Regions from separate parts of the Homo sapiens genome. Here region 1 is linked to region 2. The links come from fine-mapping of genetic effects on gene expression. Tissue or cell type: whole blood. Region 2 holds a variant in brackets; the other region holds the start of a gene. Each region is shown on its reference strand, or each on the opposite one.

Region 1 (4,340 bases), not on the chromosome of region 2:
GGTCACACTGTTACCAAGTGGCAGATTCAGGTTTGGAAGCCAGAGTTCTCTGGCTCCTGAGCCATCTTCTTCACCTCACTGTCACACTTTCTGAAAACTGTATACCAAACAGGGAAATGCCTATGGTACAATGTTAAGTTAAAAGAGGATGGCAAATTGTATAATCAGTGTGAGTAAATCCACAAATAGGAAAGGCTACAAGGAAATATAGCAAATGGTTAAATATGGTTGTAATTTGGTGATTTTTCCCCTCTAGTATCTGTAGTCTCCACGTCTTCTTTATACACATTTTTTATTAATAAAGTTGCTTATTAAAAATATATTACATTAAAAACAATTACGAGTCTGCAACCTGTTCCCCTGTTTGAAAATTGCACTCTCTTGGTTTTTCGTCTCGGTTCTAGTCTTACTACCCTGAACAGAAACTCTTCAGTCCTCCCAAAGGCCATGGTAGGAAGTGGATATTGCAGCCATGTTCACCCCCACCCACTCCCTCGCTGACAACCTGGACCCTGGAGCAGGCTGTCAAAATCAGAGGGAAGTTCCAGATAGAACCCGGGCTGCTTTACCGCCTAGGGCTTTCTGGACAGCGCTACTTCAGATCAGTTACTTTTTTTTCTTTCTTTCTAAATAGCCGGCCGAATGCTCTTTTTCCAGTTCTGGCTAAGCTGTTAGCTGCAGCCGGGCGGCGACGCCTGCCAGGTACCTGGCTCCGTGAGCACCGCCCAAACTGGTCAGGCCAGTCCGTCCTGTGGCTGTTTCTGCCAGGACTCGCCCGAGTGTGTGTGTGCGCGTGTATGTCAGAGACCCACCCTGCTCCCCTGCAACCGAGGTAGGTGGAAGGCAGTTGCAGGCACCAGCCTGGCAGTCAGGCCAGATGGGTGGGGCTGAATTAATCTAACCTGGAATTTCAACTTGGCCTGCACAACAGGTGAGGGAAAAAAGCAGCAGAGAGAACGGGCAGTTTGGCAACTTGGAAATATTCCTGAGCCCTGCCCCTTACCCCCTGCCTGGAACGTAGCCCAGGGTGACTCTTCAAAGTGTCTGCGCCGGGTTTTAGGGCTTAGTCGCCCCACGGCCCCCTCGAGGCTGTCCGAGGCCCTCCTGAACGCTGTCCTCCTCAGTTACCCTCCGCGACGCGCCCGTTCCCCCTCCTCTGGGAGGCAGGGCGGGGGTATCGGATTAGTCTTTGTTTTCGACGCGAAAGAATCGAGCGCGGCGCGGGGGAGGCTGGTGATGGCAGGGCCGTGGGGTCCACCTGGACAGGGCATTCGGCCGTGACCCCTGCGAGGGTGCCCTTAGCCTCTGCCCCCGAGCAACCCCTTCTTGCCGGCCAGGCTGACTCGGTACGCAAACGCGCGATGTCCCCCATTGTCCTGCCTCGGAATGAGCCAGCGGCAGCTGGGACAGGGGGGTCAGTCGGGCCCGGCGCTCAGGCCTCCCGGGGGCGCCGGGGCTGTCCCGGACAGATCTGGCCCGCAGGGAGTGGCAGGAAGTGGGGACACCGAGCGAGGCTCGGCCGAGGGCCTAGGCTGGAAGGTCCGCGTGCCCCACCCCGCCTCGCCGGCCCCGGCTGCAGCCCCGCCGGAGGGCGAGGGTGGCCAACCCGAAGGGGGCGGCCGCCTCCCGGGAGGGCCGACCGCGTGGGTGGGAGCCACTGCAGGTGCAGAGAAGCGGCGGCCGGGCCGGAGCCTGCCCCAAGCCGCTCGCAGGCCGCCCACCCGACCCCTCCCCTCCGCGGGAACCACCCCCCTCTCGCCCGGCCCGGGGCCCGGCCGGGCCGGCGGGGCTCGGCGGGGCCGCACGTGTGCGCCCTCCCGGGCGGGGGAGTCCCCGGGCGAGCACGTGCCGCGGTGCGCGGGGGGCGGGGAGTCCCGCGGACGCCTTCATTGCTGCTGCTGCTGCCGCCGCGGCCGCCGCTGCCTCTTCCTTCCTCCTGCGCCGTCCCCTCCTCGGCCCGGGCGGGGGGCTCCGCGCGCTGAGCTCGGTCGGGCCGGGCGCTCCGGGAGGCGGGAGCCCCAGGCGGCGGCGGCGGCGGCCGCGACGGTGGTGGCGGCGGCGGCGCGGGCCGGGAAACTTTGCCCCTTTGTGCGCTCCGCCCCGGAGGCGGCGGGCAGGTCGGTGCAGTCGGTGCCTTTCCGGCTCCGGAGTGGGGGAGGGGCGGCGGGAGGCGCGGGGGGCCCGGCCCGGGGGAGGGGGAGGGGACGGCCCGGATCCGGCGGGGGGCCGCTCCTCCGGTGCGGGGGGCCGGACTGGGGTGCTGCGGGGCGCTGTGCGGCTGAGCCGGGCGGGGGTGGCGGGGCGGGGGCGGGGGCTGCGAAGCCGCCGGAGCGGAGTGGCGGAGGCCCCAGAACAAAGGAGCCCGAGCGGCGGCGCGCGCGCGGCCCGGCCCGCGGCTCGAGCGCGCCCCCCTCCCCGCGCCCCTCGGCGGCGCGGGCCGCCCTCCCCAGTCGGGCTGGCGGGCTGCGCTCCGGCGGCGGGCGCGGCGGGCGCGGGCTGCCCAGGGCGCGCCCCCACCTCCAGGCGGCTTCCGTGCCGGGGGCGCCGGGGCAGTCCCGCCGAGCGAGGCTCTCAGCAAACTTTATTTTGAAAGCTCAGCTCCCTAGGGAGGGCCCGGCGGCCTCCAGCCAGGGCGTGTGGGGGAATTTTGGTGAAACTCTCACCAGCCCGTGGGGGTGGGGAAGAGGGCAACTTTCTTAGAAATCTCACCTTGATCACCCCCTTGAATCCAGGGCCCCCAGCAGCCCTCAGGCCCGAGGCCGCCTCCCTCAGACAGGGAGCGGGTGCTGGGTGCGTCCTGCCTGAGGTTCTGGGCAGGACCTCAATTGAGCAAGCCCCATCTCTTCCCCCATTTTCTCTTCCCAGAAACAGGAAGAAGTGACACGTGAAAGTTGTCCCTGAGCCCCGAGTGATGCGCTTCCCCTTTCTGTCTTTTTCAGGCAGCACTGCCTTCTCCAGCGTCCAGACCCTGGAGGAAAAATACCAGGAGAAACTGCTCACTCAGCTCTGCCCCCACCACACCCCTACCTGCTCAACTCATGCCTGGGTCCAGGGTGGGTGAGGGTGAAGAACCCACCGGGCCAAGATGATCCCTTTTCTGAGGGCTGCTGCTGGTGTCCTCCCCCAGATCCTGGGCCCCAGCAGGTGGGAGAGTGGCCCCCTACGGAGTCCGATCAGACTGCTGCAGAGGAGGTGAAGAGGGGTTGAGAAGAGGCATCCATCCACGAGACTGAAGCCACTTGCCTTCACCCTTGTAGACTCTTGACTGTTCTAGGCGAGAAGGACCTGTTGGTGGCCTTTGGAGGTGGCAGGAAACGACTGTGGTTCTGCCCCAGCACCTATGACCCCACCTCTGGCAGCATCATGAGCCAGTTTCAGGTGCCCCTGGCCGTCCAGCCGGACCTGCCAGGCCTTTATGACTTCCCTCAGCGCCAGGTGATGGTAGGGAGCTTCCCGGGGTCTGGGCTCTCCATGGCTGGGAGTGAGTCCCAACTCCGAGGGGGTGGAGATGGTCGAAAGAAACGGAAACGGTGTGGTACTTGTGAGCCCTGCCGGCGGCTGGAAAACTGTGGCGCTTGCACTAGCTGTACCAACCGCCGCACGCACCAGATCTGCAAACTGCGAAAATGTGAGGTGCTGAAGAAAAAAGTAGGGCTTCTCAAGGAGGTAAGCCGGCCCTTGCTGGGCTACCCTGTTCCTTCCTCGAGGGCACGGTGATCACGGGGGTCTTGTTCAAGCAAGGCTCGTCCAGTTGAGTCCATTCTCTCATTTCTGATCCTCTTGGTCCAACTTTAAGTAGGAGTGTAACTGACATGTTTGGACTCCTTTGCAGGGCTGACAATTTGTATGAGTAACTGGGTAGAAGGGGGATCTGAGCTAGCACCCTCATCTCTGATGTTTGCATTTGAGGCGGGACTGTGATGTCTACCTTTACCTCTAGAAGTTTCTTGTCCTGCTGCTTGAAGCCTCAGATGTTGTATTTCAAGCTCATGCTAATGCTTGGATGACTTGGTCAGTGAGGGTGTAAGATAAGAGATGGAGGCTGATGGATTTGGAGACAAAGTTTTGGATTGACAGGGTGGTTTTATGATGCCCTGATGGAGTGGGATGTTTCTTTCATCGTTTTTCTCAGATGGCCAGAGAGCCAGTTGAAACTGTTGGGGAATCTAGTGACGAACTGATGTTTTGGGTTCCCCTATCTTAGTTCTTCTTGCGGTCAAAAACTTTATTTCTGTGTTCTCGGGACCTGGCACAATTCCTTGGCAGGTAGTAGGCACTCAGATACTAATTGCATGAATGGATGACATGCTTTTGAGACACTGTCAACCCCAGGGAGGTGT
Region 2 (4,379 bases):
GGACCTCTGAACAGTCACTGGCCCCAAGTCTCAGGGTTTCATCAGTAAGTACATGAGTAAACCATGAAAGCCAGCTTTGGTCATGAGGAGTAGAAGTAGCACCAAATAGCTCACCAAGAGAAAGGGAGAAAAATTGGAAATTAGCACAATTTGGCTTGCACTGAATGGTCAGAAGACCTGGACCCTCCACCACACTTCTGACATGCAGTGTGACCTTAGGCCAGTCCCATCTTCTCTAAAGCTTCATTTTCCCACTAACCTTAAAGAAGTTCAAGTCAAAGAGCACAGTGATGAGTCCCACAGATCATGCTTGAGATGGTGACAGTGTTAAAATACTGACTCCAAAATACAGCCTGGCAGTTTATCTTCTCGAGTTTCCTGTTTCTATGACACTGTACGGTGAGATGGCCAAATGCAGACTCCAGAGCCAGAATGCCAAGCTCTGCCACCAGCTCCTCACACAACCCTGCACAAATCACTTTAACTCTCTGTGCCTCAGTCTCCTCATCTGTAAAATGAGGGTAATAGGCCGGGTGCGGTGGCTCACGCCTGTAATCCCAGCACTTTTGGAGGCTGTGATGGGCGGATCACGAGGTCAAGAGATTGAGATCATCCTGGCCAACATGGTGAAGTCTCGTCTCTATAAAAATACAAAAATTAGCTGGGCGTGGTGGCATGTGCCTGTAGTCCCAGCTACCTGGGAGGCTGAGGCAGGAGAATCACTTGAACCTGGGAGGCGGAGGTTGCAGCAGTGAGACGAAATCGCGCCACTGCACTCCAGCCTGGCGACAGAGTGAGACTCCGTCTCAAAAAAAAAAAAAGATGGTAATAACTGGACCTAGCACATAAGGTTGTTGTGAGGATTAAATCAGGTAAATATGATGAAGCCATCTGAACCAGTGTTAGCACAATGTAAATATTCAGTAAATGGTAGCTATGATAATAAAAGTAATACATTAGTTTTCAATAAGCACATTATAAACAGAGATGTGGCTAAGAGATCCACCACAGCTGGTAAATGGAGAGGGTGCAGAGATCCTGCTGTCACATGCTTTGCCATACATTGACATATTCTGGAGTAACTGACTGCAAAGCTGAAATGGCATCCCCAACTGAATTTACTGAAATTCATATATTTAATATTTTTGACTGCCTTCTCTTCTTCCCAGTCTAAGACCTGAATATGGGATCTATACCCTTGTTTTTAAGCAGGAGTTCATGTTATAGATTCTTCCTGACCGTAAACCGGGAGTTGGGTGGTTGAGAGAAAAAGAGTAGAGATCAAATACTAATGATCATTTAAAAAAACATATCAGGCTTGTCAGGCACGGTGGCTCACACCTGTAATCCCAGCACTTTGAGAGGCTGGGGCAGAGAATCACTTGGCCCAAGTTTGAAACCAGGGCAACACAGGGAGACTCTGCCTCTACAAAAGAAATTTTAAAAAACTAGCCAGGCGTGGGTGGTACACGCCTGTGGTCCCAGCTACTTGGGAGGCTGAGGTGGGAGGATCGCTTGAGCCTGGGAGGTTGAGGCCGCAGTGAGTTGTGATCACACCACTGTACTCCAGCCTGGGCAACAGAGCAAAACCCTACCTCAAAAAAGAAAAAGAAAAATGTACTGAGGAATCATCCAGGGACAAAATAAAACTCCCTTGAGGTTGACTTATAAGCAGAAGCCTCTACTTACGTAGGTGTAAAAGCAGTCTGTTAACAGATATTTTCCAGGCACAGAAATCCTCAGGAGGCATTTGTTCAGAAGACCTGCACCTGGAATTTAAATGACAGTATGAGCTCCTAGGAAATCTCCTGGAGTAACAGCAGAAGAAAAAGTCAGTTGTTTTCTCGTAAACATGTTTCTCCACCAGTGTCACCAACAGATGCATTTTTAAAAACA[A/G]GAAATAGAAAGCACCTTCTCTTTCCTGCTTAAGACACACAGGTTGGGAAAGTTCCTGTACAGTGAGCAACACATGCCCCCTCATGCTGGTGCTCTGTGCGGGAGAAAACGTGAGGTGTGGCCGTTGCTAAGGAAACCGCTGACACGAGGCAGAGCAGCAAGGTTTGCTCAGCAAGGTGTCTTAGGAAATAAAACACAGTCTAAGCCTATAGATCCCATCACAGAAGAAAGGCAGGCAAGGATCCCGCACAGGAGACGGTAGAAGGCTTCTATTTTCACAACTGATTCTGCAGCCTCGTGCTGTAGCAGTACAGGCTGCAGAAGGTTTGTGGAGGGGAGCGCCGGTCTGCAAGGACGGTCTGTGACGGCTTCAGAATCAGGTGGAGGGCAACTGAGAAGAATGGAAACCACCTCACATTCTCTCCTACCTGGTCTAACTTTACAGACGAAATGCATCTTTCAGCTGCATCACAAGAGAGGAAGCCAAGGTCGTAGGGTCTTCATTTCTGAAAACTGATTGTTCAAGTAAATCCTTCAGTCGTCCCCCTGATGCGACCTGCTAGGGAAGCTGGGAGTGCCTTCACAGTGGCTCCAAGGGGGTGTCCTTATAGGGGATTACATCTCAAGACACATTTTACCCAGCAAGAGGCTGCATGACTCAGCAGTCTGATGAAGAAAGCTCTGTTAAGTTACCACCAATTGCAATTTCTAAGTTAATGATTACAGCTCCACCGAGGAACCAGAACACAGCTGAGGCCACAGAGCATTCCCCGTGCTTACTGGCCAGTGGGGATGATGTTGCCCAGATGTGTGGGTCGGAGCTGAATGGTGAAGACAATGATTTGTGATTCGCAGGTGGACTCTTTAAGCCAGGTGCTACTGAACATGCTCTTCAGTGACTGGGAAGCTCTCAAGAAAGATGATATCACAACAGGAACAGATTATGTTGGGAAGATTCTTGAGAGTTGAGATTAAAATCCAAGAGGAGCTCGGCCAGTAAAATAAATGGTCAGAAAAAGCCATTTGATACTGTCCTACAACAGAAAATACATCTAAAAAATCAAGCTGAGAAGTACAGATGGGAAGGAAGAGGCAGTGGGGTAAAACAACAATCAAACCAACGTGAAGCTACCGAACACACAGAATTCTGGAATATTTAAACACTATCATAATAGCATGTTTCCAAAATTGTCTGATTATAAAAATGGGTATAGAAAACCAACGTCAGACAGGAGCTCTTTCATTTTTTTCTTTTTTTTTTTTTTTTTGTGAGATAGTCTCACTCTGTCACCCAGGCTGGAGTGCAGTGGCATGATCTTGACTCATTGTAACCTCCGCCTCCTGGGTTCGAGCGATTTTTTCTCATGCCTCAGCCTCCCAAGTAGCTGGAGTTTTAGGCGTGTGCCACTACACCCAGCTAATTTTTGTATTTTTAGTAGAGATGGGGTTTTGCCATGTTGGCCACGCTGGTCTTGACCTCCTGACCTCAGGTGATCCGCCCACCTCGGCCTCCCAAAGTGTTGGGATTATAGGTGTGAGCCACCGCGCCCAGCCCTCTTTCACTTTTCAACAGTAACTGAAGTCTGTGTCAGATTGTGAGGAACACCTGTCTGCTGCTTTCTGGAAGCTTTCAGTATTTGAAAAAGTGGCTAGGGAAGCTGCTGGGAAGTCCTTCAATTAACCTTAAAAAGCATGTAATAAAACCTAATTATAGAGCATGCTTCTTTCATCCTCTCTGTCACTCCTTTAGAGAATGTGGTGACTTTCTAAGCCACTGTCCCTGCAACCTCCTAGGATTTAGATGTATGAACATTATTTACAGATGGGAAAAACAGAGCACTGAAAGTTTTGGTCAAGAAAACCGTACGGGTTAGTGATGGGGTTTCTCAATTGTGAAGACCTGAGCTTGACAAATGCATTTTCAGCTTCCCAGGATACCCCTGGCTCCTCAGTGAGCACTGGAAGTTTGTCCCTTCTATAGCAGCCCTTGGCAGTTCCAGTCTAGGGGCAGAAGCCAGCCTGCCACTGCAGAGAAGAGCAGCAAGTTCCAGCCCAGCCGGCGAGCACGCTGCACTCATGGGCTTCCCAAGGCTCTGGCGGGAAGTCACGGGTCAAGTGAGGTCTTCTTAGGTGCTCAACAGTCACACTCTGGGGCCTGAAAGGTCTTAGAAGCTTATCTCTGTCAATCTCTGCTTAGAATCAAATCGATCAATCAATACCTTTTCCTTCTCTTTGCTTCTCCTACTGAGCCCCAGCATATTTGAGTGAAGGTACTTACATGTACGTAGCCTTTTAAAAGCCAAGTACTATCAAGTGAGCTCCCATTTCAAGGCACGTTTGAACTGGGAATAGAAAGACGGGCAGCTTAAGCTTTGGGATCATACAGACCCGGATTCAAATTTCACTTGTTACACAGCCTTGGCAAGCTATTCAATCCTTTTGGGGCTTTAGTTTTTTGTTTTTGTTTTGTTTTTTTAATTTAT

What was found. PIP is the estimated chance that this variant, and not a neighbour inherited with it, causes the effect.
Region 1: it holds the start of TET3, and the variant in region 2 is the best candidate, but not a certain one, in a credible set for the expression of TET3 in whole blood (TOPMed, PIP 0.52).

Annotation. Positions count from the first base shown.
Region 1 is chr2:73,983,041-73,987,380 of GRCh38, forward strand. TET3 (tet methylcytosine dioxygenase 3) reads left to right here and starts at 1,870. Exons shown (of 12, transcript NM_001287491.2): 1 at 1,870-2,117; 2 at 2,940-3,666. The coding sequence starts at 3,364. RefSeq lists enhancers at 246-1,169, 3,063-3,292 and silencers at 1,343-2,032, 1,791-1,989, 2,413-2,582.
Region 2 is chr7:130,882,628-130,887,006 of GRCh38, forward strand. LINC-PINT (long intergenic non-protein coding RNA, p53 induced transcript) reads right to left here. Exons shown (of 8, transcript NR_170176.1): 7 at 1,690-1,769; 8 at 1-109. Among named protein-coding and RNA genes, the nearest start is that of MIR29B1, 7.3 kb to the left of the region's middle. RefSeq lists an enhancer at 3,850-4,379. The variant A/G (reference allele first, on the strand shown) is at 1,897.